Linked DNA regions of Homo sapiens: all the other regions are linked to region 2. The links come from fine-mapping of genetic effects on gene expression. A gene starts in region 2. Each other region holds a variant in brackets. All regions are shown on one strand. Distances are from middle to middle. Region 1 overlaps DGKG (diacylglycerol kinase gamma). Region 2 holds the start of DGKG (diacylglycerol kinase gamma). Region 3 has its middle 15 kb from the start of LINC02020.

Evidence for each region. PIP is the estimated chance that this variant, and not a neighbour inherited with it, causes the effect.
Region 1: its variant is fine-mapped to the expression of DGKG in monocytes after LPS (Quach 2016, PIP 0.95). The same link has a PIP of 0.9 or more in monocytes after Pam3CSK4 and monocytes after R848.
Region 3: its variant is fine-mapped to the expression of DGKG in atrial appendage (GTEx, PIP above 0.99).

The regions. Positions count from the first base shown.
Region 1 is chr3:186,235,558-186,245,444 of GRCh38, forward strand. DGKG (diacylglycerol kinase gamma) reads right to left here. Exons shown (of 25, transcript NM_001346.3): 20 at 6,947-7,011. Among named protein-coding and RNA genes, the nearest start is that of DGKG, 120 kb to the right of the region's middle. RefSeq lists an enhancer at 6,697-6,746. The variant GCA/G (reference allele first, on the strand shown) is at 6,827.
Region 2 is chr3:186,356,359-186,367,782 of GRCh38, forward strand. DGKG (diacylglycerol kinase gamma) reads right to left here and starts at 5,876. Exons shown (of 25, transcript NM_001346.3): 1 at 5,588-5,876. RefSeq lists an enhancer at 4,644-5,161 and a silencer at 5,946-6,035.
Region 3 is chr3:186,419,923-186,431,346 of GRCh38, forward strand. No RefSeq gene overlaps it. Among named protein-coding and RNA genes, the nearest start is that of LINC02020, 15 kb to the right of the region's middle. RefSeq lists a silencer at 5,008-5,097. The variant C/A (reference allele first, on the strand shown) is at 6,783.

The sequences.
Region 1 (9,887 bases), 120 kb before region 2:
CCAGGAAAGAATAACTTAGAAGGGTTTCATTTTTAGATATAAGAAGAAAATCTTATGTAAATCATGATATATTTTATGCTTGTGACGGCAGAGCATACTGCAGGTATTCAAGAGAGGAAGCCCTTCCTTTCATTTTCAGAACTGTGTGACTTGAGCTTTGTCGGTTTCTATTTTGTTCCCCACAGAACATCTCTGTCTTTATCTGAGGTCAGGGTTGGGGAGAGGTACGTGGTGGGTGAGGGGAAAGAAGTATCCGTGAGGGAGGGTTAGTCACATCCCCAGCATCTGACCACAGGGCCACTTGCCTACCTGCCATGCAGTCCATGACCCCTGCTAGTAAGCCAGAAGCACCCAGGGAGCACATGGAATCTGTCCTGCCACTCTCCTTTACTCACTCCTGCCCTGTTCCTCCTGAGGCCATTTCACCTGGGGTCTATGACCCCCTCCCTTGATCCTGCTAGCCTGGATTTGGCACTGGACTTCGAATCTCTAGTGTCCAGATCCCCAACCTCTGCCTCTTGGACTTCCATGGAGCCAGTGAAGGGGATTTCCTCTAGAGCTTCTGTCCTGTAGAATCCAAACCAACCAAAGTGGTGCCATATTCCCACCCCCAGGAGAAGGATTTGGGCAGATTCAATGCATCACTGCTGGGGTCTCCTCCAACTTTTAGTTGTCCTCCAACTTTTCAGGTTAAAGGCCATGTCAATGGAGCATTGATTCTGTGATAACTGAATCCAATTTGTCACTCCATTAAAAACAACCCTTTTATTGTCAATACTTTATCGTCAATTTAAGGCAATGCTTGTTATTCAATGATATTCAACAACAAATGTTTATTGCGAACCTCCTGTGTACTATGAACTTAGGTATTATGTCACTAAATACTTATAGCAACATTGCAAGATTTTCAAAAGAGGCAGCAAAGGATTAAGAAGATTAACTTGCCCAAGGTCACATAGCTAATAAGCGGCAAAGCCAAGTTTTGATGCCAACTTACTCTATACCCTGCTGCCTTCTTCTATAAATAGTTACTAAGTGCTTAGTTATTTACAAGGTATATTTCCAACCTCTTAAAAACTCAAGCTACATTAGGGCTTCTGGGGAGCCCCTCATCAGTGACTCCATGGGACCTGCTCCAAGAAAGCTAATATTTCAGAACCTGTTAATTAGTCAAGGGCTTTTGAGAAAGGTGGTCAGCTTCTAGTAGGAATGAAGCACTGCTTCGGTCCCTCTGAAGGGCCTAACAGGAAATAACTTGCTTCAGCCTCAACTGCTGAGAGACGCGGTCAAGTGGATACACTCAACAGGTTTAGAATAACACATTCCGCAAGTACTCTGAGTTTCTAACCAACAATGAAAACATTCCACAGTTAGACTTCTCTTTCTAGACACTCACTGACAGTGACATTAGAATTAGGTGGCTTTTATGTATAGATTTCATATGCAAAACCCTTCATGGAGACTTAATCTGGAAACTTCATGGTGGGCTGGTTTTTGGCTATCTGGAAGACTTTGACGGGATTCTTGGCTCCTCTGCTAGTACTGATTGCTGCCTGTTTGTGGGACTGAGAGTCCCTCTCCTTCTCCCTAAGTTGAAACCCTCTTTCCTCCATTCTTTTGACTTTATTGCAAACACCCTACTCTGTGACTACTGGCAAAAGTGTCTTCTTTTTATTAATTCCTCTGTCCTTGCCAGGGCCACCTCATAGGTGTGAGATGTGGACTCCAGGGCCCCACACTTAAGAGGGCTCAGTGCTTAGTTTAATGCTTTGCTGTCCCATTTTTGAGGAAGGGGCCTCACATTTTTAATTTTGCACTGGGTCACACAGATCATACAGCCAGTCCTGCTCCTTGCTGTGGACGTGGAAACAGGGAGAATGCTCACACCATACAAGGTATGACTGGATGGTGTACCTGTTCTCCTCCCCTTTGGAACTCAGCAGGCATTTTCCCACAGAGACAATCCATAAAGGCAGATGATGCCAATGACAGCTCCATCCTCCTTAGCCTCAGTTCCTTCATTTCTAAAATGGGGACAGTAGCACTTACCCTTGCATGTTATTGTGAGCAATGAGTGGGATGATGTATAAAGTACTTATCAGAGTGTCTGGTATACATCAGTGCTTGCTCAATGAAATCTATGTGAGACAGCAGTTGCGGCAAACAGAGCTTGGACTCTGGAGTGAAGAGCTAGGTCAGAAATTAAATTAGCCCCACTGCCTAAAAAATACATGACTTTTGTTAGTTGACTTGGTTTCTTCCAGTGTCAGTTCCTTTATCTGTAAATGGGAATGCTAATATTTATCTTGAAAGGTTGTTTTGTGATTTAAATAATTTAATGTATTTAAAGACCCTAGTTCACCACTTGGCATCTAGGAGGAGCTAAAAAAATGAAAACAGTTCTTAGTCAGGTTCCCCTTTAACACTATTGCTACACCTAAAACAACCAATTTGGCCAGGAGTGGTGGCTCACACCTGTAATCCCAGCACTTTCGGAGGCCATGGCAGGCAAATCACTTGAGGTCAGGAGTTCAAGACCAGGCTTGCTGACATGGTGAAACCCCATCTCTACTAAAAATAGGAAGAAAAGTTAGCCAGGCGTGGTGGTGTGTGCCTTTAATCCCACCTACTCAGGAGGCTGTGTAGGAAAATCACCTGAACCTGAGAGGCAAAGGTTGCAGTGAGCCAAGATCACACCACTGCACTCCAGGCCAGGTGACAGAATGACTCTTTCTAAAAAAAAAAAAAAAAAAAAAAAGACCAAAAACATCCCCCAAAAAGAAAACAATCCATTTGCAAATGATGTTTGGGATATGACCATTAATAAGTTCTTACATATTATACGACTTCCTGTATACTATATCACCTATGAAATGTAACCACCTTGTATGTTAAAATAATTTTGTAAAGAATACTTGAGCACTATTTTTCCTTTTCTTTTGCTAGACGACGATTTCCTTGAAGGCAGGGGCCACATCTTATGTGCCCTTTATTCCAGATCACTTTCAAACACTTTAGAATCTCAGTTGAATCAAATTTCTCTTTTGTTCTTTATGCCAACAGTGAGACGATAATCTCCCTAACATTCCTCAATTAGCAATTAATGATTAGCCTATTGATAACTAGGAGGTAGACAGGGCCAAAAATAACCCCATCTCTGCCGTTAAAGGCCTTTTCTTTTTTGCCCATCATACATGGCTCGTATTCCTGCCTCCTCGGTTCTGGTTCTTGCTCCATTAATGAAACTATTCCATCAGAGAACATAACTTGGTTTTCTGGAACCCACTATCTTCCCTGGCAACAACCCATCTAGAGAGGCCATGGAGGAAGAATTTCCTGAAACCCCAACATTTGAGTCATAATTTGATGCCTCTTAGGATTCAAAGAGGCCTCAGACCTGTGACTTTTAAACATTTTGGGAGTATAGGTTCCTTTAAGAATCTTCTGATAGTTATGGACATTCTCTGCAGAAAAATACATTCAGTACCTTAGTACAATTTCAAGGTGTTCTCAAAACCCCTGAAGCCCTTGGATCCCAGGTTAAGAATTCTTGTTAGAATAGCCAAGAAAAGGGAATCAGCAACGTGAATGATTCCGGTTTCCTGGTAAGTGTTCCGGACCTGACTAGTCACTCTCCCTTGCTGAAAACAAAACAAAACAGAACAAAACACAGCAATGACAACTCCCAAGATTTAACCTCAAGATTATCCCTGAGAGTCCAAACCTGGGCAGTAATGGTAAAGGCTTCCGGCCAAGCAGTAACTACTCTTTGGAGAACCTCAGTTCAGCTGAGTAAAATAGGCCTTGTTTGATAATGCCGTTTACATTTCCAAATCCTGGGTATCAAGCTTTCTTCCTATGCCTTGCGGCCTTTCCTAAGTTTAGCCGCTGGTGTAATGGGGTAACCATGGCAACAACCACCTGCCTATTTAAAACCATCTCCAATGCTAAATAAGGAAGCCTGAAGAAAATGGCTGCTTGCCTGCCTCTCAGTGGACAAATTGGGCACTCCTGGGTATTTTAGACATGGGCGAATAGGCAGGGTAGAAGCAGTATGTATGCAAAGTTCTTCATAGGAAGCGTTCGGTGACCTTGTGAAATAGGTGCTACCTCAGCCCTTCTGTCTTCGTTTGTTAGGCGAGCACGCAGGTTTACGTGCAAATCCGTGGGCCTGTCACCATGTCATCCATGCTACCTTGACCTCAGTCAGGTGAAGAGTGAGCTGAGAACCTACCCTCAGAGAGAAGTATTGTTTATAGGATCTCGGAAGGGAGAAGGAAAAACAGTTCTACAGATCACAGTGAATTTGTTCATACTTTGCATTAAAATGCACGCTACAATCTTTTTTTTTTTTTTTTTCTGACGGATGTGTCTTTCTAATTGTACTTAATCATGTGGGTGATGGATGATTGCTCTATTTATGTCATATGTTGGCCTGCCTATTGATTTTTGGCATATGGAGAAATTTCTCCCTCCCTCTGCTTCCTTGCTTTCTGGGAATTACAGATGTTTGGTTTCTTTCCTCTGCCGAGACCATACAACTGATCACACTGAACATCTTGCTCTTCCACAAGTATACTGCACCCTCTCACTCCTTCGTATCTTTTCGTACATTTGCTTCCTTCTCCCTGTGTTGCCCTCCTCTTTTTCCGTGTCTTGGTTCAGGCGTCTCTGTCATTGGAAAACCCTCCATGCCACGTTTCGTGTCCTTGGTTTTTGCTCCCATAGGTCACCTCCAGTTACATCACTTAACACAAACCATTCTGCACATCTGCTTTCCAGCCTGTTTCCAGCACCAGGCTGTGAGTCCCCTACATGCGTCTGTCCAAAATGCCTGTAGAACAGTGTCTGGTGTGCATTACGTTTTCAAAAGATCTGCTGAATGAATGGATGAATGAATGAACAGAGCCCCGTGGCTTTCACAAGCATATGGCACATGTGCATGAGTACGTATAAGGATACTTGTGTGAGGCCGGGTGCAGTGGCTCAAGTCTGTAATCCCAGCACTTTGGGAGCCTGAGGTGGGTGGCTCACTTGAGGTCAGGAGTTCGAGACCAGCCTGGCCAACATGGTGAAACACTGTCTCTACTAAAAATACAAAAATCAGCTGGGTGTGGTAGTGGGTGCCTGTAATCCCAGCTACTTGGGAGGCTGAGACGGAAGAATTGTTTGAACCCAGGAGGTGGAAGTTGCAGTGAGCCAAGATCGCGCCACTGCACTCCAGGCTGAGCAACAGAGCGAAACTCCATGAAAAAAAAAAAAAAAAGATACTTGTGTGAAAAGAGGACCTTAAAAGCCTGAGGAATGGGTTGAAGAGGAGTACTTTTTAAAAAAGTGGTTTGTGTGTATCTGGGAGTGCAAAAGACCGTTAGAGGAGATCATCTGAACTGTAAGTTTGTGACTATAGTATCAGGGGCTGGAAGTACACGTGTTCCTAGTGTGCAGTGAGTGTGTATAGTCTGTGTGTGTGAGAGCAAGAAGATGCTGTGGCAGGATGCACTTCCTAAAAGGTTCGTTCAGCTGCTATCGGATCCCACAGATCGCTCTTTCTGAAGCTATAGTGTTCAGTTTCTGACCTCTAAAAAGACCTCCTTCTTCTTGGTTGACTTCTCAGGCTGTGGGGTCAGGACAAAGAGTAGGAATGAAAATGGCCAGTGATGAAAATGATGGGTCCTGGGCTTTAAATGAATGTCTTCAATGAACACTCTAACCTCTCTTTTAAGGACAATTCTTGCTTGTAATCCCAGCACTTTGGGAGGCCGAGGAGGACGGGTCACTTGAGGTCAGGAGTTTGAGACCAGCCTGGTGAACATAGTGAAACCCCATCTCTACTAAAAATACAAAAGTTAGCCAGGCATGATGGTGCACGCCTGTAGTCCCAGCTACTCAGGAGGCTGAGGCAGGAGAATCGCTTGAACCTGGGAGGAGGAGGTTGCAGTGAGACAAGATCACGCCACTGCACTCTGGCCTGGGTGACAGAGTGAGATTCCATCTCAAAAATAAATAAATAAATAAATAAATAAAAAGACAATTCTGTGGGCTAAATAAAAGTCAACACCTTTAGGCTCAAAAACAAAGTCCAAATCATTATCCATTCTTCTCCCAACCTACCTAGGGTTGGGGTGGGAACAGTGTCTGAAATAGTGGTCATCTTGAAATAGTACAACAAAGAAAAAGAAAGAAAGAATGAAAATTGACTAATGAGAAGATACAGACAAAGAAGGAAAGAGGGAGAAAGGGGTAGCTATACGTCAGTCACAACTAAGTTCTGGCAAATTTCATCCTACAAGGAAGAAGGGTTTGCTTTCTCTTGCAAATGATCTGGTTTCCTCTTTCCTTTCATTTTTGAACCTAACTTGGTGACTTCACAGAGTGCCCAGGCTGAGGCTGGGACTTAGTGGGTTCCGGGTCTCCAGCCTTTGCAGGTACCTCTCTGCTGCTGCCCTCTGCTGTCGGGGGAGGCAAAGGAGACACCCTTCTGGTCCTCCTGGTCCAAGTCCCGGAGCTGCCACCTCCTCCCATTTGAGACCGACAGAAGCTAGGGTCTCTTCCAGCCTCCCTGCTCTTCCCCAAAAGAATCATGAGGGGCTGGGGTTGGAGGCGCTGTACTTGGAAGCAGCAGAGACTCAGGACGGGGGTTCCAGTTAGACAAGGGCAGACGCCCTCCCACCTCCTCCCCTGCAAAAGCAGGCCCTTCATACCCACCTCCTGCCCTCCAGCCCTGCCCTCTGCACAGATCCTTTGGGAGAGGACAGGCAGTTAGCCTGCGCCAAGTTTCTGACACTTTTTTTTTTCTTGGAAATGGAAACCCTCCTTCCGGCAAGTG[GCA/G]GGAAGGCCAAGTCCCCAGCGGCCCTGGCTGGGAAAATTTCCAGAGAGCAGGTGAAAGGCCTCTGTTCCGCCAGGGCCACACTGGGTGGGTGGCAGCGCAGCCGGGCCTGCAGCTTACCTGCTGTTGAATTTTTCAGGATGTTTCTCTCTCATCACATGGAATCTGTGTGCAATGGAAGCGTCCTGAAAGTGAAAGAGACAAAGCAGATCCTTGGTGAGTGGTCATGACAGTGCAGTGCGGAGGGAAGGGACGCACGCATGCACTCGCTGAGTCATGCCAACCCTGGGACTCTATCTATCGCATGGTGGGGCTCCAGGTCACATCCGCGGAGCCAACAGAGGCTCAACACTGCCTCCAGGGGGATGAGCTAGCACCACCAATACTCTTACAGCCTATGCCAGTTGACTCTGGAGTCCTTGCTATTTCACTCTAGCCCGGACCCGCTGAGAACAGATAGATAGTTCAGGGGTGAGTGAAGGGGAAAGCCTTTGCCCTCTGGGGAGACTGAGAGTCTGTGAGCAGTTAGAGATCAGGAGCCTGTGTCTGGGGCTGAGCATGAGTCTCTGGAAATGACTTTCCATACTAGTTCTTTTTAAAATAGTTTTTATTTTGGAATATTTTGACTCACAATTAAGTTGCAAAAATAGCATAGAGTTCCTAGGTCCCGTTCACTCAGCTTCCCCCAATGATAACATTTTATATAACTATAGGATATTGTCAAAACCAGAAACCTGACATTGGTAGATGCTATTAGATATTAAGTCTTAACCATCCACACCAATAGAAATAATTAGTGGCACTGGATAACATGCTTACTAGATAATAAAACAAAATTAAACTCTGGCTTCTGCTTCTTGATCACTTCACTCGAAGGACTCCCTCCAAGGCCAATAAGAGTCATTATTACATCATGTGGACACTGCCCTCCTATTAGCACATCCCTTTGCCACACTAGCGGCCCCCTGCACTCCAGCACTCACAGTTAGGATGGCTGTCATGCACTGTGCTCCTGGGCTCTCCATCCTCTGACCACAACTCCCTAACCCTGGGTTCTACCTGCGGCCCCCACTCCACACCGTGGCCATCTCGTGAGTTCTCGTGGCTGTTACCAGCATCTGAATGATGATAGCTCCAAAGTGTCAATCTCTAGAGCCAACCCTAAGCCTCAAACCTGAAACGGAACTTGTCTTTCCTCCTCAAACTCGGTCTTCCACCCTCGACAATGGTCTCATTTTCCAGCAGAAGAATGTGTAACGCCCCTTCACCGCTCAGGCCCCATACTGGTACTTTGGGTGCAGGTGCTGGGCTTCAGAAATAAACAGGCTAATTGAGCCGGAGATGGGGGGTGACACAGAAACCAGGGAGTTGACTAGATTTGTTTTGCAATGAAAAATATACAAACCCATTTACTGGAATACATGGCTACAAAACACTTGAAATTCCATGCAGTGAATTTTGAATTTTCATCAAATGCATATTAATTCTATTTCTTATATGAAAATTTCTGTGTTTTTTTTTTTTTTTTTTGAGATGGAGTTTTGCTCTTGTCGCCCAGGCTGGAGTGCAGTGGCATGATCTCGTCTCACTGCAACCTCTGCCTCCCAGGTTCAGGCAATTCTTCTGGCTCAGCCTCCTGAGTAGCTGGGATTGCAGGTGCCTACCATCACACCGGGCTAATTTTTGTATTTTTAGTAGAGACGGGTCTTCGCCATGTTGGCCAGGCTGGTCTCGAACCTCAGGTGATCTGCCCGCCTCGGCCTCCCAAAGTACTGGGACTGTAAATGTGAGCCACTGCACCTGGCCTCTGTGTGTGTTTTTAAGCATCAAGAGGTATAGTTCTATGAAGAAGCTTTTTGAGCATGAACTCTGTGTGGTGAGGTGCACCTGGCATAGGAGTCCAGCAGCCCACATCTGAAAGGTGGCAGGGCAAGAGGAGAAGATGGGCTTATTTTGTGATTGGCAAACATTCTTTGCTAAAATGATGTTTTGAGAGTTTAAAATTTAAACTTTAGCTATTGATGTTTTTTTTTTTTTTTGAGATAGAGTCTCACTCTGTCACCCAAGCTGGAGTGCAGTGGCACAATCTTGTCTCACTGCAACCTTCACCTCCCAGGTTCCAGAGATTCTTCCGCTTCAGCCTCATGAGTAGCTGGGATTACAGGCATCCGCCACCATGTCGGGCTAATTTTTTGTATTTTTAGTAGAGACAGTGTTTCACCATGTTGGCCAGGCTGGTCTCAAAACTCCTGGCCTCAGGTGATCTGCCCAACTTGGCCTCCCAAAGTGCTGAGATTACAGGCATGAGCCACCAGGCCTGGCCAATTTATTTTTTAGCTTAAGATATATTAAGAGTTTAAGGTCTTGGAGAGGCACCCCCATGGGTGCACGGGTGAGATGTGCGGACCCCAGAGAGGCCTCTGTCCCTGAGGCCTATCCAGCCTGCACCGCTTCCCTGGGCAGCAGCACTTCATGCTCCCAGACTGTACCCACCTCCCACTCTCTGAGCAAATTTCAGTGAACACCCTCAATAAGATTCATGTGACATTTGTCAAATGCTTCTCTAAAATTCGAGAAAATATTCCATCTACTTCTATTCCTTTGAAGCACTAATTTTCGTCTGTCAGGAAAAAAAAAGTGGAGGGGGGCGGGGAAGAAAAAAGCAATCACATGTTGCCTGGCACAATTTGTACTTCGCTATCCCCTACCCCCAATACTGCTGATTGACTCCCAGCTTTTTTATTCTCCGGGATATGTGTACAGGCCCCCTCCTTCCATGCAGTTCTGATTGTCTTTGGTTTTTCCATAACTAGGTTTTGCAAAGATGCTTTTTACAAAGACCAGCCTTTAAAACATTATTAGTGAAGCACGTGGTCCCTAATTTGACAATGTAATCCCTTGGCAAATACACAAAGTAGCAAGGGAGAGTAGAGCAGCTCCTTTTCTAAGTCTTAAAAAGGCAATGAGGGTGAAGACTCTGACCACGTTTCTCTATCTGGGGATTAAAAAGAGAGTCGAGATTCACTTTCACTCTCTGGAGCTTCTATGTCAGGCAATGACC
Region 2 (11,424 bases):
CTGAACTGAACAAGATAAAATGAGAAACAATGCACAGTCTCTAGAGTGGCTGTGAGGGGGTGTGGGCAAGTATCGGGTGAAGGCGAGCAGGTGGGCAATGCAGTTCAAGAGCAAGTTTAAAAGAGAATTGGGTTACTTCAGTTGATATTAAGCTCAACAGGTGTCAATGGTATAGATTCTTAATTAGACCTTAAAGAGTTTTAATAGAAATAGGAAATAGAATGAGGAGGTGGTAATTTCAGTCTTCTCCATGCTGATTAGGACTCCCTTGAAATTTTGCACTTTATTCTTTAAGAATAAAGAAATTAGAGAAAACTAGGACAAGAGTGATGATAATAATAGTGAGGGCACTGGAGCAAATGGCCCATGAGGTAGGGTGGAGCAGTGAAAAGGGCGTTGGCCAGGGATTTGAGAGCCAAGTTACCCCATTAATAGGTTGCGAGATCTTAAGAGCTGGTTCAGGACTCCCTGAGGAGAAGCACAGACTATGGTGGTTGACTGGTCTGCTCTTGTAGGTTTTTGGTTCCCCGCCCTTTTCCCCCTTCTCTTCCAGGGGAGGAGATGGGGCCAGCATCCACCAACTCCCATCAGTAGGAGAGGGGAGAGTTGCTGGCTTCTGGGTTCTTTCCTCGCAGAGGCTCATGCATGCACAGCCTGGGCCTCTGGGAGTGTCCAGGTTGGAGGGATCCTCGCCATCTGTTGATGGTGTTGTGTGGGGAGTTGGAGCAGTTGGGGGAGCTGGAACAGATGATCTTAGTAGTTACTCCCATCTCTGAGAGTCTAGATTTCAAGACACGCTGAAATCAGGTCAGGCCACACTATGGATGGGTTCCTTTCTCCCTCCTTCACCCATCCAGGGACAGGTTCTCTTAAGACCCTGAGCAAAATTTTGCACTCTTGATATGTGATTCAGAGTCATAAATTATACCCATTGTTTCTCTTGGAAAGCTTTCAAAAGTCCCCTTTCTGTGATTTCCCAGGAAGCCAAGATGGTGGCAATCCTAATCCACATCACAACACACAGCAGTTATTGAGGCAGTAAAGCAAAAGGTCCAAGAAAAAAAGAGAAGATAAATAAAGAGAAAAGGCTTTGAAATCATATAGACCTGAGTTTCAATCTCAGTCTCTCCTATCAGCTTTGTGACCATAGGCAAATTACTGAAACTTTCTGAGACTCAGTTTCCTTATCTGTGAGATGGGGTTAATACCAGGAGTGTAGTGATGTGAATATCAGGTGAAGCTATGCGTGCACAGAACATAGCCCAATGTGGGACTCAGAGTCGGTGCCCAGTAAGTGCTATTGCTAATATTACCACAACATTTACTACCACCATCCCTCCTTTATCTTTCTCTCCCTCATCTCTTCGGGGCTAGGCACTGTGCTAGTGCAGAGGATACAGTGGAAAACGAGACAGACATAGACACACACTTTGCTTGCACCAAGCTTACACTGTAGCACAGTCCAGTTAAACTTTTTGCAATGATGGAAATCTTTTAAATGTGCATTCTCCAATATGATAGCCAGAAATCACATGCTGCATGTAAGCACTAGCAATGTGACTGGTGTGACCGAGGAACTGAATTTTAAATTTCATTTAATTTTAATGAACTAAAGTTAAACAGGAAATAGTCACATGTGAAAACAGACAGCACAGCTCTAGACACCTTTCAGGTATATTTCTGGGACTGACTAGCCTGAGCAGAATAAAGGTATGCTGAAAGAGAAATGCACGTAAAGCATCCAGTACAGGACCTGGAAAATTCTCTTATTCGTTCATTCGTCACATTTAATTGTTGACTATGGATTGGCACTATCTCAGGTGCTGGGGATACAGAAAAGGATTAGACATGGTCTCTGCCTTCAGGGGGCTCATAGTTCAGTGGGAGATATGCAAATAGTGACTTCGCCATAGCGAGGTAAGCTTACGCACAGGTGCTGTGGATTCAGGACATCTCTAGGGTGGGCTTCCCTGAAGGATGTTTCCGGACCTGAGCTGAATCTTGCATAAATTGATCTCAGAGTGGGAGCAACAACAGATTATATTCCAGGGCTACTAAACCCACTGCTGGTGGCAGAGGTGGCTTGGAGATCAACGAGGCTCTAGGAACAACTCATAGCTAGGGCCAGTTTGTTTTCTTCTAACCCTTTGTGTGTGTGTGTGTGTGTTTTGTATTGCCTAATTCAATCTCTCTTCTGCCAGCCACATTTTGTTTCCACCTGAGGACATTTTTTTTAAATGATGGGTATAACTTTATTTTTAAATTGTTTTATTACTATTAATAGTTACTAGCCTTGATTTCTTTTTTTTTTTTAGTCAGACAAACTCTGTTACTTATAAAGTGACATCAGCTCTCACTATGGTTGGGTGTGGAATTCTGATACTTGGTACAAATAAACAACTCTTTGAATATGGCCAGTATGTGAGGAAGCTGTTGCTGATGGGTTAAGCTTGCTGAACCTGGCTGTGATCATGATGCACGTTCACAAGAGTGAATGTTGTTATAATGACTTGTATGGAGAAGTGGGACATTATACACATTTGTATATTTTACATGATGGTTTGATTTGTTCAAAGTTAGTATGTGACATTTAGCTAGAGAATTCTGCAGCTGATACTTGCTCACATAAAAATAGGTATAGCTTTATGTTGTATGGTTTCCATAATCCCTCCCGAGTGTATAAAGCAAGGTGATATGTGTGATTCCTTCTTCCATGAGACTGAAGAATGCTCGTGTGATGTGGCTTGGTCGTGTGAGGCCTTGGCCTATTTGGATTCCTAAAGGTCATCTGCTTGAACTATGGCCGAGTTGTTTCTGGTGAATGGAATCCTAAATTAGTGTACCCTTTTTGAAAAGTGGCTTCTCATATATACTGTGAGCCTTAAAACATTCATGCCCTTTGGCCTGGTGATCTATTTCTAGGCATCTATCCAAAGGAAGTAATGGGAAGTGTGTGCAGTAAAGACTTTGCCCAGAGTTATTTGTAGTTGCTAAAGACAGGAAGCAACTTAAATAACTAACAGTGTAATAATATGCAGCCAGGAAAACAATGTTCATGAAGGTCTTTTGCTACAACACTAATTCAGAAAAAAGCAGAGAACCAATAGCTACAGGGGCTCAGCAACCATACTTTTGAGTCAGACAGCCTGGGTTTGAATCTTGATTCTGCCACATACTAGCTATGTAACTTGGGCAAGTCACCTGAAGTCTTAGAACCCTAGAAAAATGCAACCCTAGAAAAATGGGATTGATAGTAATAACACCTCAGAGGGACTCCTGAGGATTAAAGGATATAATGAATATAAAATTTAACACCATGCAAAGTATACTTATTAGGCACCCAATAAATGCTGGCTCTCTATGGATTGTATAATTTCGAGGCATAAAAACAGATGGAAAGGAAATATGCCAGTATATTAACAGTGTGGGATGGGAGTGGTAGGATCATGGGTGATTGATTTGTTCTTTGCATACTTTTCAACTTCCCAATTTTTAGGCAATGAACATGAATTACTTTTATACTAAAAGAGTACATTATAATGATGTAATACAATAAGATATACATTTTAAAAGTTTTAAAGTTTTACCACAAAGAAAAGGTACTTCCCCGCCCTTTTCCCCCTTCTCTTCCAGGGGAGGAGATGGGGCCAGCATCCACCAACTCCCATCAGTAGGAGAGGGGAGAGTTGCTGGCTTCTGGGTTCTTTCCTCGCAGAGGCTCACACATGCACAGCCTGGGCCTCTGGGAGTGTCCGGGTTGGAGGGATCCTCACCATCTGTTGATGGTGTTGTGTGGGGAGTTGGAGCAGTTGGGGGAGCTGGAACAGATGATCTTAGTAGTTACTCCCATCTCTGAGAGTCTAGATTTCAAGACACGCTGATGTTTGTCGTTTTCTCCCCATGTCTCGGTTGATCTGAACCAACCACTCCATAAAATTCTAAGGTAGGAAAGACTCATCTACTAGCTTCCCACCCTAAAGCCCCTCCCAGAAAAATACCTGTAGTAATGCCTATAGTGCTGGGTGTAAACGTTAAGGGTGATTGGCAAAAAAGACATAGATCAGGAGTACGACCGGGAAGTTGGCTTAGTTGCAGCCGTTTTATTTAAGGAGTATAATTCATATTCGGAATGGAATCTCCAGCAAATGTAGTCTTTTAATATGACAAACAGTTAAGTACCTTCCCATGTTAGACACATGCCTGGAATGAGAGTGAGAGGGACATAAAATATAAAGGGGTGTGTGTCTGTGCCTGGGTTCATGACCAAACCTCGACATTTGCCCTCTATGATCTAATTTCCTTCATTGACAACCAGGGTGCCCTGTGTGCCAGCAAGTGGCTCTGCCAGCTGTATTTTACAGACAGAGAATCCCAAGCACCAAAATAACAAAGTTGATTCCCCCATCCAGACCAGAGGGGTCGTTTCCAGTCCTGTGTCCTGACCACTGTCTCTCATCATGACCCCTGGTGTTCACCTCCAGATCCAAAGTGTCGTCGCCAAGCCCCCAAAATAAAGGAATGACAAACAGCCCTCCCAGGCCCTCCTCCCCACAGAGAGGTCATCGTATGCTAATGAAGTCCGAGGAGGCAGCGGCGCAGCGCGGGAGAGCGCGCCCACGGGTTCACAGCGCTCCCGGGCACCACTGCGGCGCAGCCACAGATCGCTTCGCGCTGCAGCAGACGCTCCCGCCGCGGGGGGCGACTGGGGGAGGGGTCTCGACCGCCACCCTGAGTTCCGCAGCTCATCCCTCCCATCTGGGAGGTGGTTCTAGCTCTAGTCCCAAGCTTTCCACTGCAGTGATGGTGGGGATGGGGGCAGCACGTCAAATCACCTGTAGGGCTTTTTAGAACTCCACAGCCCCCTCCCCTAATTCTATTCCACTAGTTCAAACGAAGAAAATCTCAGACTAGGCAAGGGGAGGTGGACCGGTGGAGTCTGCGAAAGCACCACAGGTGACTCCGGGTACGCACTCCTCAGGACACAAGCACACACACGGACACATCTTGTGACTCTGAGACTACACAGATCAACCTCAGATTCGACCCTTCCCTCCTTTATTCTCTGAGGTGTCCGTGTTCGCTTCAGCTTCCCTTTAAGTCGCCCTGCGCAGGGGCTTTGTGGAGTGCCCCCAAAGTCCTAGAACCCCGCGGGACGGTCGGAGGCTTTGGCGGCCAGACATTAGGAAAAGCATCTCCTGCTTCTCGGACTGCCTGGAGCGCGAACTGGATATCAAGGAGCCAAGGTTAAGTCCAGAAGAAGAAGGAAATCCGACCAGTTGCTTTAGCAAACTGCCTGGAGCAAGGCCGCCTCCCACCCGCACAGCTTTGAGGCTTGAGGGGGCCTCTCAGTCGCAGAGAGAGCCGAGCCCCACCCTGTGCGTTCCCCAAGCCTGCACCCCTCGAGCGGGGCATCCCTTCCTGCAGGGCTTTGTGGCAGGTGGAACTGTCGGGGTGGGCGCCGTGGCTTTGGCTGCAGCCCCTTCCCTGGCCGCGGGACCGGCTCCCGCTTTGCCCTCCTTTACCAAGTTGCTGCACCGGGTGCTCCCTGAGCCGGGGACCCCCTCCGCCGCGCCGGCCGCCGTCTTACCTCACCAGGCAACACTTGGTTGCGCGGTGGCCCGGGGCGCTCCTTCTTCGCGGTTTATTCCCTTACTTGGGAGGAAAGAGGAACCGAGAGACAGAAGGGGGACCGAAGCTGGCCTCTGGGCGTCTTCCCGCCTGCGCAGCCCTCTCGGGGGAGGGGGATGCAGCCCCAGTGGGTGCCGCGGAGACCAGGCTGCCAGGCTGTGGTTGGTAGCGCCGGGGTCTTCACCCTGTGCTCGGAGTTCAGCAGCTCCAAAGCTGTCTATCTCCGTGGCCCGCTACTACGGCACTGCGGCTCTGTGCCCTGCCCCTCGCAGCCTGGCAAGTCCAGCTGCCACTCTCACTGCGGAGCCCTGCCCCCGGGCGCAGAGCCCGCCCCCGCCACACACACCGGCGCGCGCGCGTACACACACGGCACACACAGACACGCGCTTCCACACATGCACACGCGTGCGCACACACGAATGTGGATCCGCTCGATGGGAACCTGACCCCCTTTGGTGCAACTAGGGCGCGGGCATCATTAGGACGCTTTTTACTGACAGGGCTTCGGTTTGGGAGGAGGAGTTACAGGCTTAGGAGTGTGGAGAGGATGCAACAGTGGTGGGTACCAGAGGGCCCCTGACCCCGGAGGCAAAGGACAACTGTTTGACAAATAAATACCGACTGGGCGTTTCCTTTTCTCAACTCTGGTCAAGGCTACCGTAATATCCCGACCAAATCGAAGAAAAAATAAAAATACAAAATCAACAAGTTCTCTTTGTTTCCCAGGAACTCAGTATCTCTAGGATCCAAATCACTAGCCCTGTCCAGAGGGTCATTTCTGACAACCTTGACTTCGGTGGCAGTGGATTGGTGGCAGTTCAACTCGAAAAGGTTTTCCCCTCGTAGCCTGGTGGAGACTGGCACAGCCTGCCTGAGCTGGACTCTGTTGGATGGGTCGGGTCTCTGGGTGTGTTTAATTCCCATTCTCCTTTGCTTTTAGGTGACCTTGGACTGTATTCCTGCAGAATAAATAGATCTCTTCTTTTTTTAAAATGTAGAAGAGCACAGAAAAGACGCTGGGGTGAGGGGTCGGGGGGAATAGGGGAGCTACATTAGCCAAGGCACTATGACTTGTTGCTTCTCTTTCCATGACGTGCATGTCCACGTGAGGGGGTGATGGTGGTGGTGACACTATTTCAGGCATGTCACACAGCAAGATGACTGCTGTCCATTTCACACCACATTTAGAGTCATTAGGAGTTTAGACTGTCATCTTTAAAATATGTGGAGTTTACTCATTTCCACAGCCGAGAATTCTTTTCTGCCAGTGGGCAGTGAAGGTCCCCGGGCCAGCACTGCAGCCAAGAAAAGCTTTCCGCAGAGTGTGGAGGCGCCGAGGGGCTCTGGGTGTCTGTGCATTTGGGGAAGAAGCCTCAAACACGAATGTCAAACAGCCCTGAGGACCCTGTTGGGTGGTGTCCATACTAGGCTATCTGCAGGCAGGCTGGTGAGACAGATGAGAAACAGAGCTGAGAGATCTCCTTAAGATTCCACACAGTGATGAAGACAGAGCTGATACCAGAACCCCGTGTTTGCGACTCCTCTTATCCTCTGGGTCTTATCCATTCTATCACCCTGGGTGGCTTCTCAAAGTTTCCTTCAGCTAGGCTGAAATAATCTTGGTGAGGGTGCCTTCAAAGTTCTTCCTTGTCCTTTCTTTTTTTCCTCTTCAGTCACTGACTCATTCATTTTACAGCTATTTATTAAACTCCTACTCTGTCTTCAGGTGCTTCCCCGTAACTCCAGTCCTGGGCCTTACTTGGGAGGAAAGAAGAACTGAGAGACAGAAAGGGCTTAGAACTGTCCTCATCCCTGGAAGAGAGGAGCCCTGAGCACAGGTTTCTGGTATATATTTTCACTCTGCTAGGTTGCATGGATGTGGAAGACACAATCCTTGCTTTTTTTGACTGCATGCTCAATGGAGGAAAATGCACATACATGTCACAAGAAAAACATTCTGGCTGTCTATTCTTGACTCCTTCTAAAGAAGGCTAAACTGAAGGAGACCCTGTGTTTGGCTGAGCATCATAATGGACTTGGGGTACATGTTTGCAAATAGGTGTTAGGACAACATTGAGTTGCTCTGCCTATTAGGACAGGAAGGAAATAAATTGAATGGAACAAATGAAGAAGACATGCAGAGACTGAGTGTGGAGCCTTAGCTTCGTTGAGAGCACATTGGGGAAGGGTAACGAGAGGGGAGGAGCTCTGAGGACAGGGTTGCCAAGCAACTTGCCTGAGAACAGGCAACAGGGTTGCCAAGTTGTCCAGGGATTTGGACAGGGGAGATGCTTGCAAAGATTGGTAAGTAGTTTGCTGTGGGGTGGGCTATGAAAGCCCCCGGTCCTATGAAAGAAATCATTTGTAAAGTCAATATTGTTCATCGGTTTGCTTGCAAATGGATTCCTTTAGGATCAGGATGGAGCCAAATGATGCATCTGAGTTGCTGCAGAAGGAGTTCAGAGAAGGCTGTGTGGACTGAGTTACATGCTAATAACATGGAGGAAAAGGGTGGTAGTAGAGGCTGAAGCAATGTGGAAGGCAAAGAGGGATGGGGCGGGAAGAAGCACCAAGAACAATTAGTGCTAATGGAGGCATCATGGAGGAGGTAGGGTTTGCGATCGGATTTTAAAGGGGAATAGAGATCTCACTTAAAGATCAACAGGACAAGGGCAATCTAGGCTGGGAGAAAGCAAAAGCAGAGACGTAGGACAATTCATGGTGAGTTCTGGGTCTTCCCAGCACAAGAAAAGAAGGCTGGGACAGTATTGTGGGAGTCTCCAAATGCTCTTCTGGGAGCATAGACTTGGGTTCCACAGTGAGGAGCTATGGCAGGTGTGGATTTTTTGTTGTTTGTTTTTGATGGGAAATGAGCTGGGAAGCAAGCTGGGAAGTATCTGATGCCAGCTTTCCCAAGGTAGGCCTTCCCCATCAGAATGGAGCACTGTGGGGAGGGAGTCCTTGTTGCTGCTCTCACGAAGAGCCAGAGCCCAGGTGGCTTATGTGGCTTGCTGCAGAGGGCACCCAGCTAAGGGGCTGAAATCCAACTCATGCCCCACTTGCCCAGCCACACAACCTGTTAGGGTTATGTCTGCCTGGAGGGAGGGATGCCTTTTCTCTAATTTGCATGGGCTGACAGAGGCCCTGCAACTGAGCTCTTTATTTGAAAAGGCTGAAGCTACGGTGAAACAAGTGAGGATTTATTGGGCATTTGCTGTATGTGCAAACATAAGGTAAAGCAGAAAGAGTCTTGAGGTCAGGACTATCTGTGAGTCTGAGCATGTCTCTGCTCTGTGGTGACACCCTGAGACTTACTGTAGGGTACAGAGGAGGAAGCTTAGTGCCTCTCCTCAAAGATTTTGCAATCCATGTCAGTTATAAAACAAACGCTCCACTGGTTAAGAAACAGTGAACGACAGTATGGAATCAAGTGCCAAATTGCACAGGGCAGATTCTCAGGGCTTGAGAAAGGAGACCTCCTCTGGGCTGAAAGAGTCAAGGCAGGCTTCATGGAGGAGGAGGGCTGGGTTTGGCAGTGGAGCATGTGTATGTTGGTTCTCAGCCAGAGAAAAGACCTGCGAACAAAAAGCCAGAGGAAACGAAGCTGGGGGCTTCTAAGCATGGATTTTTAGCCGCCACAGCCACCCTAATGCCATTCCCAATTGTAGCCCAAGCGCTGTGATGAGTCACCCTTGTTTCTGAGAGACGGGGCATTTTTGGATGTTTAACTGGTTCAACACTTTACATTCCCTGAGACTTCAATGTTGGCAGCTCACACTCACCATGTTGCTCTGGGAACACATCATCCAAGCCAGCAGCTGATGCCTGATCTCCACTGCCAAGGCAAAGCGAGGGCTGAGTCAGGTACCTGTGTCTGGAAATTTTTAGTCCCACTGTCTCTGACAAGCTGAGCGAACAGCACTTGACAGTTGGAGCACAGCTGAGTTCAGGGTCACCAACCGCAAGGTGGGCCGGGGGGGTTCTGCTCGCCTTCTTAGGCCTCACTTTTCCCATGTACAGAACACAAAGGATTATACCAGATTATCTCCAAGCTGTCTTCCACCTAATATTTTATGATCTCATAATTAATGGAATCTTTCCATGTTATCAAGCAATGACAGGATGGGAACAGATACTAGCCAAGTCCGAACCTTAACTTTCCTCTTGGTTTTGACTGTGAAGGCTGTGGTGGAGTGAGACTGTGGGTTGGAAACAGGAGAACCAGGAGCTCCTGGTCACAGTTTTGCCATGAATGGGATTTGGGATCCAGCCCTGGGAATGTAGGCAGGAGATTCCCTCATTTTAGTTTTCTTAGAAAATAAGGAGGCTGGAAATGGTCCCTACAACCCTTTCTGGCACTGATACTCTGTTAAGTACTAGCAACTGAACAACTTTTAAGTACCGCCCCCTTGCCTGGGTGGGGCCCTCCACAAGGCAAGCTGGGAAAATTCTCACAATATCAACTGATAAGCTTGAAGGAAAGCACAAAGGAGAAGCCATGGGGTTCAGAATAATAAATAGATAATTTAGAATTAGATGGAGTCAAAAGAGCTAATCTGAGTCTCTAAGCTCCAATTTCCTCTTCTGCAAAGTGGGGATAGTAATACATGCATCTCAAGGTAATGATTAAATGAAGAAGCTTATTTGAAAGTGTTTTAGAAGTGCTATGCAAAAATGTAAAATACAGTTATTGAAGATAGTCTGTTCCCTTAAGGTAGTCTATTTTTTAAAGCCTAGTTATTATACTACTTGCTAATGTGTCTGCTTCCTAAGAAACAGCAATTCAGGTCAGCAACTCTTTATACACCACATTAAAATATAGTAATATTTTAACATGAAAGATGCTGGTGGACTTCAGGACTACCAGAGTGCACATCTGCCCCCTGCCTGGAATTCTACAGTGTCACTGGAGTTGCCCACAGTGGATTTCCCAGGAACTTTGATTGTGTTTACTTGACAGTGAAGGAGACACCTACCCATCCAAGATCCTGCTTTGATGCTTGCCTATCCGGAGACAGATGGTGGAAAGAGGGGAAGGAGGCGTGAGTGAGTAGGGAGAAAAAAGGAGGCTTTCTTCTTTCTGTTATATTTTGGGCAAAGGATGTTAAACTTTATGCTTTAATGAGCTTGTAAAAAGGCTAATTTGGGTTCACTACATTACTCCAGGTCTGTTTTCTGCTATGTCTGGTCAAGAGACACCGCCGTGGAACTCTTCACTGTTGTCCCTGGAGGGGAAGCTTTTCACAGGAAACGCTGGGAAGAGCCACAGAGGGGAAAAGGTTCTAACTCCCTAAATGACCATTTGCTTCAAAGCCTGCCCAGCCCGCAAAACTTTTGAAAAGATCAGTCTAGTTTTAGAAATCCTGGTCACTTCTTTATCTCCTGTTAACCAATTTGGGGGGACAAAATGTCACAACATGTTAGCAATTGAGGGAGCCCCAAGTGCCAGCACTTCTCTCATCTGTTCTTCTCATTTGCTGCTGCCAGAGTAACTTCTGAGAGTTTAGACCCCAAAGCCCCCTCTCTTTGTTCAAAAGCCTTCAAAGCCTCAGATCCCTCATCCTTAAAAGGGACATAATAATACTTAGGCATAGGCTTTTATGGAAGATAGAAGAAATATTTATGAACAGTCTACAATAGGATTGGTCACATAGTAGGTTCTGGATGAATGGAATTATTGTTATTACTGCCTTAAATAGAGAGAAATAGAGAGTCCCTAAAATGGCATTCAGGGCCCTCCACGAAGTGGTCCCAGGTCACTCATCCACTTGCACGTCCGGTAAGCTTTTCGAGGAC
Region 3 (11,424 bases), 64 kb after region 2:
CTTGTACACTCAAAGTATACACGTTTTTTAAAATTGTATATTCTTGGTAAAGATTATATTACCTGGCCTTATCCAAACCATAGACATGCTCCAGGTGTTAATTATTTAACAGCTATTTGAATAATCATAAATGTGGAACGCAATGAAGGTTCTTGCCAAGGTCTGAGGATACGTGGTCAGGTGCGGTGTGGAGGGGCATCCAGTCAGTTCTGGTGTTCCGATTTTAATAACACCTAAATGAATTTCTCAAAATTTAGGAACCTAGAAACACCAAAAACACTTTAAAAAACGATCCAGAACACTTTATTTTAGAAAGATTGGTATTCAAATTTTTTTAATCAATCAAAGGAGAAAAAACACTATTTTAAAAAGTCAGGTTTATTGAATATAATTATATGGAGTAAAATTTACCTTTCTAGTGTACAGTACTGTAGATTTTGACAAATGCATACAGTTATATAACTGCTACAACAATCGAGACACATAATACTTTTATCACCCCCGAAAATACCTTTGTGTCTCTTTGTGGTAAGCCCTTATTCAATTCTCAGTCCTTGTCAACTCCCGATCAGTTTTCTCTGTTATGTTTTGCCTTTTCCTTAATGCCATATATTACCCACTGTGTAGCCTTTTGGATCTGCCTGCTTTCGCTTACCATAATTCAACTCGAGATTCGTCTACTTTGTTGTGTGTGTCAATACTTTTTTAAAAGTTTCTGATTAGTATTGTATTGTGTGGATGAACTAGAGTTTGTTTATCCATTCACTGGTTGAAGAACATTGTTTCCAGTTTTTGATGATTGTGAATAAAGCTACTATAAACATCCTATTCCAGGTTACTGTATAAACATAAAGTTTCCTTCTCTTTCTTGACGCTTATGAGTAGGATTGCTGCATTGTGTGGTAAGTGTCTGTTGAACTTTGTAAAACTGTCAAATGGTTTTCAAAAGTGGCTATACCATTTTGCATTCCCACCAGGAATGGATGAGAGTCACAGTTGCTCAACATCTTTGCCAGCATTTATTGTTGTTTTTAGTCATTCTAATAGACCTACACACCCGGCTCATGGTTTTTCAAATGCATTTCACTTGCATTTCCCTCATAACTAATGATGTTGACATATTTTCATGTACTTACTTCCCACCAACATATCTTCTTTTCTGAAGAGTCTCCTGAAATTGGCCAATTTGAAAAATTGGATTGTTTGCTTTATTATTATTGTTTGGAGAGTTCTTTGTATTAAGGACTTATCAGATATGTGTTTTATAAATATTTTCCTCTGTTGTGTGCTTGTCTTTTCTTGTTGTTTTGTCATTTTGTGTGTGTGTGTGTGTGTGTGTGTGTGTGTTTGAGATGAAGTCTCACTCTGTTACCCAGTCTGGAGTGCAGTGGCCCCATCTTGGCTCACTGCAACAACCTCTGCTTCCCAGGTTCAAGCAATTCTCCTGCCTTAGTCTCCTGAGTAGCTGGGACTACAGGTGCCCACCACCATGCCTGGCTAATTCTTGTATTTTTAGTAGAGATGGGGTTTCACCACATTGGCCAGGCTTGTCTCAAACTCCTGACCTCAGATGATCTGCCTGTCTCAGCCTCCCAAAGTGCTGGGATTACAGGCATGAGCCACCATGCCCGACCTTGTTTTTTCATTCTCTTGACAGTATCTTTTGAAGAGCAGATGTTTCAACTTTGAAAAGGTTTAATTTATTATTTTTTCTATACTTTTGGTGTTATAGCTAAGAAATCTTCATCTCACCTATAGCCATAAAGATTTTCTCCTATGTTTTCTTTTAAAAATTTTGTTGTTTTAAGTTTTACACTTAGATCTGATTCATTTTGAGTTGAGTTTTGTATATAATACCAGGCATGGATCACATTTCTCTTTTTTACATTTGGATGTCAGTTGCCAAAACCATTTGAATGACCTGTACTTGGGTTTACTGGACAGTTAAATGTACATATAGTTCATTACAATGTGGTTACCAATGTGTCCCTGGTGGGTCTTTCATTCATTCAGTTATTCAAAGATTTCTCAAGTACCTGCTACAATCTAAGATACTAATCATGAAGAATCACTGCCTTAAGGTGTTTACTGTCTAGTGTAGGAGAAATACATGTCAATAGTATATAACTATACTATGATGCAGAGAGTAACAAGCTGCATATGTTCTGCCCAAGAATAGAATCTGAATCATTTCATGATTCATGTCAAGAACCTACTAGACTATTTAGGAAGAAGCTATATGGTAGGCTAAAAATGGAGGTAACTGAGTAACTGGCCCAACCCTTTGGACAACTGGCCTCTGAGGGATTTGGCAGAAATGCCAAGTCAGAATGTTTGAATGCTTACTTATAAATGACAGGCACCTGAAAATCTAAATGGTCATATTGAAATGCTGGAGAGTTGGTGAGAAACTTGGTCTTGGAGACAACTCAGTCTGCAGCTTCAATCAAGTCACTTCAGCATTCTGGGCCTCAGTTATCACATCTATAAAGTGAAAAACTTGGACCAGGTAATCTATGTGTTTCTTTCAGGAATAAAAAATGCAAGAATGTGGAAGTTTGGTGCTATGCTACTGAAACATAGGAAGCTACAGTCATATTAGGTGAGTTGATGGATGCTAGACAGAAAGATATAATTATTGAGTGCTTAGGCAAATCTATGGGTGTTAAAGGAATGAAAGGATATTGCTCATAAGTTAAAATTAAAACCAGACTTACACACTATATACATATATATATATATATATATATATATATATATATATATATACATGTATGTGTGTATATATATATATATACACACATACATACATACATACATATACTTGAAACAGGGTCTTGCTCTGTCACCCAGGCTGGAGTGCAATGGTGCGTTCACAGCTCACTGCAGCCTTGACCTCCTGGGCTCAATTAATCCTCCCACCTTAGCCTCCCGGGTAGCTAGGACCACAGATGCACCACCACACCTGGCAAACTTTTTGTATTTTTTTTGTAGAGAAAAAGTTTCACCATGTTGTCCAGGCTGGTCACGAACTCCTGAGCTCAAGTGATCCACCTGCCTTGGCTTCCCAAAGTACTGGGATTATAGGCGTGAGCCACCATTCCTGGCCACACACCATATTTTTTTGAGGGGTAAGGAGCACTCATGAGAAAATGAATTATTAGACATTACTGATATTTTCAAAACCCTGTAACAAGATCTGTGAAAAGTCTGTCACAGTGTTTCCCTTATATTAATGATAACTCAGTTTTCCTCCATTATGGCCAGGGACATGCCTAAGAAACAGGAAATAAAAGGCATGAAAATAAAAGGGTAATTTTTCTGAATGAGGAGGTAAAAAGAACAGAGATTGGCCTCAGAATATTTTGTCATGCAGAAACAAATAAAACTGATACTAAATATCTCTAGTTTGTGAATGTCAATTCAGTGGGAACAAGCTCTTGTATAATCTTATAAAGCTGAGTGTTTTAGGTAAACCAAATTATGTTTATAGGGTGATAGGCAACTAAAGGACCAGTTAAGACAAAGGGCAGTGACTTGAGAGTCACCATATTCACAAAAGATGTTGCCTCTAGACTCTAGAGAGTGTGATAGCCAAAAACAGTAAAACAGGCTGGGCAACATCAATTACCCCTAATGGGATGTGGGTTACTTTGAATGAAATATGAATCAGAAACACTATCCTCTCATTATAAAAACCATGGGGGCCTCCAGACTAGGAAGCTGTGAGCCAAATCCTGGCTGCTGAATGTTAAGGAAGACACAATTGAGTTAAAGGATTTATGTCAGAGGGTAGAAATGCTGCCACATGATTCCAGGGTTTAAAAAAATGGGCCCAGTCTAGAAATTGAAAGGCTTGACATGGAATATGATCAGCTATAAAAGTGTTAACCTTCAGAAGAGAACAAACTGATGTTTGCAAAATGCCAGAAAATAAAGAAAGACCAGTGAAGCTTAAAAACACAATACTTTCTACAGCTATGAATTTCATTACCTCAAGAAGAGACCAAGAATGATAACTTGAACAATTTTCTATAAGAATTAGCTAATAACCTTTTGGGTTCGATTATCCACTGACTGAAAGGAATCAAATGTTTTCAGGGTAATATCATGGGAGGGCTGTTTGTCATCTTGGTCTCGAAACCAATAGCCAAACAAATTTTCTTTCACATTCAACAGATCATAAAAGGTAGTAAGTTTTATGCTGAGTTCTGGGGAATCTCATACTGTTGGAGCAGCTATCTAATGTCAAGTTTAGAATTTACATTAGGAGGAAACAGCTTTCTGCAGATTTACTTTTCCCAGGCCAACCATCTGACAAAAAGAACAATCAGCTCCCAAGGTGGTGCCTCCCCTTCCAACAGTGGTTCTGACTGTCTGTCCAGAGAAAGGAAATCCTAAATGACCTGTTCATCAGCTGGACATTCCTGTGCCAATCAGCCTTTTTACTCCACTGAAATATTTAGATAGTTACAACAAGCATATAAGTGAACGTTACAATCTCACGCAGAATCTAAAATAACGTCCTACGTCAGGCAACTAACAATAAAAGTAAAATTAGACTGATATGACCACACGAACAACAGAAGACACTGGATGCAAAGTTTGGTGGCATGATCACTTGAAACGTACAACAGAGGTAACCCAGTGCATATTTAGGTTCTTGTGAAGTAACTGTGATTAGCGGAATTAGGCTTAAGGAATGAGTGGCCAAAAACCAAGTGTTAAAATGAGTTATTTTGGGAATCCCTTTGAGAAAGCTCTGAGGGTCCCAGACGGGCATAAATATCCGGTGGTTGGGCCGGGCGTGGTGGCTCATGCCTGTAATCCCAGCACTCTGGGAGGCCGAGGTGGGTGGATCACCTGAGGTCAGGAGTTCAAGACAAGCCTGGCCAACATGGTGAAACCTCGCCTCTACTAAAAATACAAAAAAAAAAAAAAAAAAAAAAAATTAGCCGGGTGTGGTGGCACGAGCCTGTAGTCCCAACTATTCGGGAGGCTGAGGCAGGGGAATCGCTTGAACCCAGGATGCGGTGAGCCGAGATCGCGCCACTGCACTCCAGCCTGGGCAACAAGAGCGAAACTCCATCTCAAAACAAACAAAGATCAGGTGTTGGGCAGTGCTCGGTCAGTGGTGGCCATGGCTGCGCAGGAGGAGGCAGAGCTCAGTCTTTGGTGGGTCACGCCTCTGTGGTTCTGCTTGGCTGGTTTTCTGTAGTGCTATACCTGCATATACAGCTACAGCTGTCTTGAGAGCTGACTCCGTCTACTTTTTTTTCTCTGAAAAATGAAGTTACTGAAAGCAAAGTGTGTTTCTTGAGTGTGTTTTTATCCTTGACAAGTGTTAAGGATACGGAGTACATACAAAATAACAAACTGAGAGCTGCTATTACTGTCTATTTTAAGCCTCGGTAAGCTGCTTGAACTCCTAGAAAAGAGAAGGAAGAGACAGGGGGTTGGGGGAGGGGGGCATGATACAACCAGGTGCAACCTGGGGTCAACTAAAGAAGACACAAGGAGAATAGGCATGACTTTTAGGGCGAACTTCAGAGAGAAGAGAAAGGCTGCTCTCAACCTCTTTGAAGGAAAATTTATGCAAGACTCCCAACTTGCTCACAATCTGCATAAAGGCAGCAAACGAATTGAGTAAATTACCTTTGTCCTCACTCAAGGGATATCTAATAATAATCCCAAGCTTTATTCTTTGGTAGGGCAATACACACAGCCAAAACTGCCCCAGTTGTTAAAAATGATTAAGTATTTCTGTATTCCTTGGAAAAGAACTGCTATCTGAACCACCGGAATGCTACCAGCTATCCCATTTGCCCCAGCTCCTCAACTGGGACTCCCCAGACCTCTGCCCACTCCCGCCAGGGTGAATGCCTGGCCCCGAAGGTCACTGCTGCAGCTCTAGAATGTTCATTCTGACTGATTGGTGCCTGGACTACACTGATTGTGAAAGTATCCTATCTGTTCTCAGGCAATGGTCGTAAGCGACACTGCTGACTAAGCCAGAGAGTTATTAAAGTAACTTAGTGCAGGATGGCAAGGAAGTTGGGTAGAGATGGAAGAAGAGACTAGCTCAAGGTTGCCTGGGGATGGGGAGTGAGGGGCTGTTAGTGCTGAAGCCTCCTGGACTCACTACATGAAGAAGGATCCTCCTTGGTCCTGAATGGCATGGCAATACCCATTTACTGCCTCTAGGAGAAGCTGGGAGGAACAGATCACAGCTAAGAAGCAACAGGAACCCCAGAGGGGAAAAGTCTTACGTAAATATGCAAGAGGATTAAAAACAGAAAAAGAGAATATTAATCCAAACCACAAGTGTATTTTCAGACTGCCAAGGTCCTGAACTCCTGCGTCTTACGCACCTCAGTGTGAATGGTGCTTTTACCAAAGTAAGAGAGAATTTAACTCAACTGAGGGACTTATAAGGGAGGTTAAGGGAAAAGTTCCAGATGGGGTAGTATAAAAATGCAGAAAGAGCAAATAATTCCTTTAAAGAGTAAATGCCACCAAAGGCCCCAATTTAGCAAATGCCTGTGTATCCTCGGAACTCACTGCACTTACAAAATATCCCTTCGGGGCATGGCATGAAATTTGACCATGCAATAAGATTTCCTTCATTTGGCATATGTTTATTGTGTTTACATATTTGGTCTCAGAGCCAAAAATACGCACAGATAGGTCCCAGGCCAAACTTGTAAGCAAATGAAAATTTTTTGTGACTACTTCTTCCATCTTCCTTTCACCTCCCTTTGCCCTCCAGTGGTCAATCTAAC[C/A]CCCTCTGAGGGATGAGTGCTTTTGGCTCAAGTGGTAATTCCTTTTGGAGAGGAATTATGAAGGACACATTCCATTCAGGACCTGGAGGAGTGAATCTCTGTGAGTAGGCTTATCACGAGGGGTGGGAGAAGGCCTTTTGGGGGCCAGTTCACAGTAATTCACTTTTTTCTGGGCTTGGAAGGAAGAGTTCCTCAAACAGTAGACACTTTGCATTTCAGGTGCATGGTTGCAATTGTCCATGCAGCCAGGGAGGTCTCTGTTTCTAATAGTCAAGCTCCAGCACAAAGGACTGGATAGAAGTGATTGAGCTGAGGAATGTCTTAGCTTCCCAGCAGGATAGCCACCAAAGCAGCAGGCACACAGGGAGGGGACCATAGAGGAGTATTGATCACTGACAAAGGAACTGCTGCCCCATGATGTAGGAAAGAGTAAGTCCGCTTTAAGTCAGTTTCATTATTGATTTTAAACTCTCTAGGCCAGGCGTGGTGGCTCACGCCTGTAATCCCAGCATTTTGGGAGGCTGAAGTGGACAGATCACTTGAGGTCAGAAGTTCGAGACCAGCCTGGCCAACATGGTGAAACCCCGTCTCTACTAAAAATACAACAATTAACTCGGCATGGTGGCGGGCGCCTGTAGTCCCAACTACTCTGGAGGCTGAGGCAGGAGAATCGCTTGATCCAGGGAGGCAGAGGTTGCAGTGAGCCGAGATGGCACCACTGCCCTCCAGCCTGGGCATTAGGGTGAGACTCCATCTAAAACAAAACAAAACAAAAAATTCTCTAGAGACTATGTATGCTTTTATTTACTGCACTGGGGGTGGGCCACTTCTACCACCAGCCCTGCCTGCAACCTGCCCAGCACAGAAGTACCTCAGAGGTTTCTCAGCCCACACAGTTTTCCCTGGGAGCTAAAGTCTGAGAAGTCATCTCAGTACAAACTGACAATGGCAAGGTTAGGAACAAAGGCAGAGGTGAGGTGAGGAACTTGGGTCTGTATGTACTATGAGGACGCCTTTCTGCCAGGCGAAAGAGAAGCAGACTGCGGTTCCTGGCAGGGCAGCCACACTCTCCCAGCACCCTCCTGCTCAGTCTCTGGTGACTGAAGCATCACAGGAGGCCTCGCCTGTGTCCTCCAGTTGCTAGGGTGATTTAAAAATAGCTTCTGCAGCTGGGGAAGGGGGCAGGGGAAGAATGAAGATAAGTGGCCTTTTGCAGGAAAACCAAAGTCAGTGAATCCTCAAAGGCAATGACCCTCCCTTGCAGGAAGGTGTCCTGTGTTTACTGTGCTTCTTACCTGAAAGACAATCTTTTTGTCCTGGGTCTGCTGTGGACTCTTTCTGGTAAGGACCCGGCTGCCTCTGGAGAAGGCCCTGTTCACTCTGTGGACCTGCAGCCAGGAGGACACCGGCAGTCTCTACACAGAAACAAACAGTCGGTGTTCAGGATCAGGTTCAGAATGATTGTTCTGCCAATATCAAGATGAGGCTTTGCAAAGCACGCCTGTCGACAGGAGTTCTATTGGGAGAGGCCGTGTGCAAGGGAAGAGTGGCACAGGGCCAGCAACATCCTCTTCAACTTTTTGCATTAGGAATTCCCATTTTTTAGTGTCAGTGTCAATGGGTTGGTGTGCTGTGTTGGGTAATGGCAGCCAGAGTCCCAGCCACGTCACCCTAACTTTAGGCTATTTTCTCGGTTCAGTGTGAGTGTTTCAGGCCAAGTATCCCAGTGAGGGGACCAACCGATTTTTGAAAATTACTTAGTGAGTATCCCAGGAAGGTGTTGTGGTTTAAATCTGTGTCCATCTCTCCTCTCTCCACTTAAGAGACTCTACCTCACTATTACCAGGCTTTGGGAGATAGCAAAAGCAGTTATTTTATTTATTTTTTTTTTCAGGAAAAGATTCAGGACTCTGGCATTAAATTTTATGAGAAACTTCCTAGTTAAGCAGTCTTTGATCCCCTCAAAGGAACCACCAAAATAAAGTCTGATATTCAATGTTTTGGGATGTTGTAAAGCTATAAAAAAAGAATAATAATTAAAATGTATAAAAATACTCACAATAAAGTAGAAAACAGTTTACCAAACAGTATAAATAAAATCTTAATGTTTAAAATTATAAAGTATATGTATATAAATATTACATCTTGCCACATGTTACATGTATATAATTGTATATGTACATCCAATATAAATATGGACCAAGTGTGCTGGCTCACACTGTAATCTCAGCACTTTGGGAGGCCGAGGCAAGAGGATCACCTGAGGTCAGGAGTTTGAGACCAGCCTGGCCAACATGGTGAAACCTCGTCTCTACTAAAAATAAAAAAATTAGCCAGGCATGGTGGTGGGTGCCTGTAATCCCCAGCTACTCAGGAGCCTGAGGCAGGAGAATTGCTTGGACCAGGAGGCAGAGGTTGCAGTGAGCAGAGATTGTGCCGTTGGACTTCAGCCTGGACGACAAGAGTGAGACTCCATCTCAAAAAATAAAAATAAATAAATAAATATGATACCAGATTGTTTCTGGATTGTTCAATTATAGTTATTTTTCCTTCTATATGCTTTTATTTATATTTCAGATTTTTCTACATGGAGTATTTCATTACTTTACAACTTCCTAATGCAATTTAAAAAATATATCCACATTACGAAGCTGAAAGTTGTTCTTCTCTTAGGCATGGCCAAACAAAGGCAGACTAGTGGTCTGGTGGCAGAAGTGGCCTTTTCTTGCCTTCAGAAACTCCCAGGGGATGGAAAGTAAAGACAAGTCTCCTTGGAGGTAGAGGGAGACCTCCCTAGCTCTTAAATCACTGTTGAATGCTAATTTGCTCAAAAACCTGGAGGGAGCTATTCAGACCCTTTATAACCCCCTCTCTGGACTGGTCTCATTTTGTCATGAATCAAAATGTTATCCTCACATTTAACCCAACCCCGCCCCCCAACCCCACCGACCCCCCCCACCCCACCGACCCCCCCAACCCACCGACACCCCCAACCCCACTGTCCCCGACAGGGCTGTAAAACATTTCTAGTGGGCTCAGGGGCAAACAAGGTTCTCAGGCCCAGGGCACCCACCTAGAAACAGCCTAGGCACAAAAGCTGCATTCCAGGAGCCTGAGGCGTGGCCTCACTAGCATGTGGCAAGAAAGAGGGTGGCCAGTTAAATGCCTTTACTGCCTCACTTGTTTTCCAAATATATATGGTGGCTCTCAGCAGGCTGACAAAAACCTCGCCTTGAGCAGGGCCTTAATTACCTTTTTTACTGCCTCTGGACTTCAGTTTCCACTTTTGTAAAATGAGAAACTTAAACTTAAAAGTTAAACTTGAACTCTAAGTTTCCTCCTGGCTCTGGGAGTTGTTTGGAGGTAAACAGTTGCTCTTCAATTTTATGGATGTTCCAAAACCCAATTTGCCCCCTGAAATCTTTGGAGTAGTGTGAACTACAAGTCTAGGATCCAGGTGCATGCCGGAAGCCGGAAGCCCAAGGACTGAGTCCAGCCCACAGAGATGTCTTTTTTGGCTCACAGAGTTAGAAGGGCACAGAATTTGGAAAAAATAGTCACTTACCAATCTTTAAAAATAGGGCCTTTTTGGCCAGGTGTGGTGGCTCACACCTGTAATCCCAGCACTTTGGGAGGCCAAGGCGGGAGGATCACTTGAAGCCAGTAGTTCGAGACGAGCCTGGCTAACATGGTGAAACCCCGTCTCTACTAAAAATACAAAAAATTAGCCAGGCGTGGTGGCATGCGCCTGTAGTCCCAGCTACTCAGGAGGCCGAGGCAGGAGAATTGCTTGAACCTGGGAGGCGGAGGTTGCAGTGAGCCGAGATGACACCACTGCACTCCAGCCTGGGTGACAGAGTGAGACTCTGTGACAAAAAAAAAAAAAAAGGGCCATTTTGAATAAAAACCTACATTTCTGGATTTTCTTCACAAATCGTAACATCTGGCAATACTGGGCCTTCATGGAAATAACCTTCTGGATCTGAGTGGTGGCTGCACCTTTTGAAAGAGACGTGGGGTCTCCAGGTGCCCAGCTGCTTCAGTTGCTGCTGTCTCCTGGACTCTGAGGCTGAATGGCAGTGGCCATTCTCAGGTTTCTTATAACGGATCTGGTCTCTTCACTCAGTCATGTTACCTCTCTGACTCTTGCAAGCATCTGAGTTTGCGATGTCTGATTTCTTGGGAACAGAGGTCACCTTTGTATCTTCCACAAAGCTTTGCTCGGTAAGAATGCATAAAGGTACTCAATTTATACTGTTCCTAGCCACCCAAAATGAAGGGTTTGGTAGACAAAGTGAATCAATCCTTGTGTTCAGAGTTTTACAGTGTTTTTAGGTGAATCGCTTTCCTTCCCCACGAAGGCAAAGGATTTGCTCCTGAGTAAGCCCCTGGCTCCTGCAGGTCCTCCTCTCGGGCAGCCTTAATTCTGGCCCTGGTATTTCCTTGGAGTGTGCCTAGGGAGGTTTGGCTTAAGTTTGGCTTCTCACTTAGGAGAGGACTTGCCACATACCTCCATGGAGACAGAAAAGGGACTCCGGGCTCCCCTCGTATATCACTTTTGACACTCACTTTAAAACACAAGAGCATATTTTTCATTTGCCAGCCATCCAAAGACGGAATCCTCATCCTGTTTATTGACACT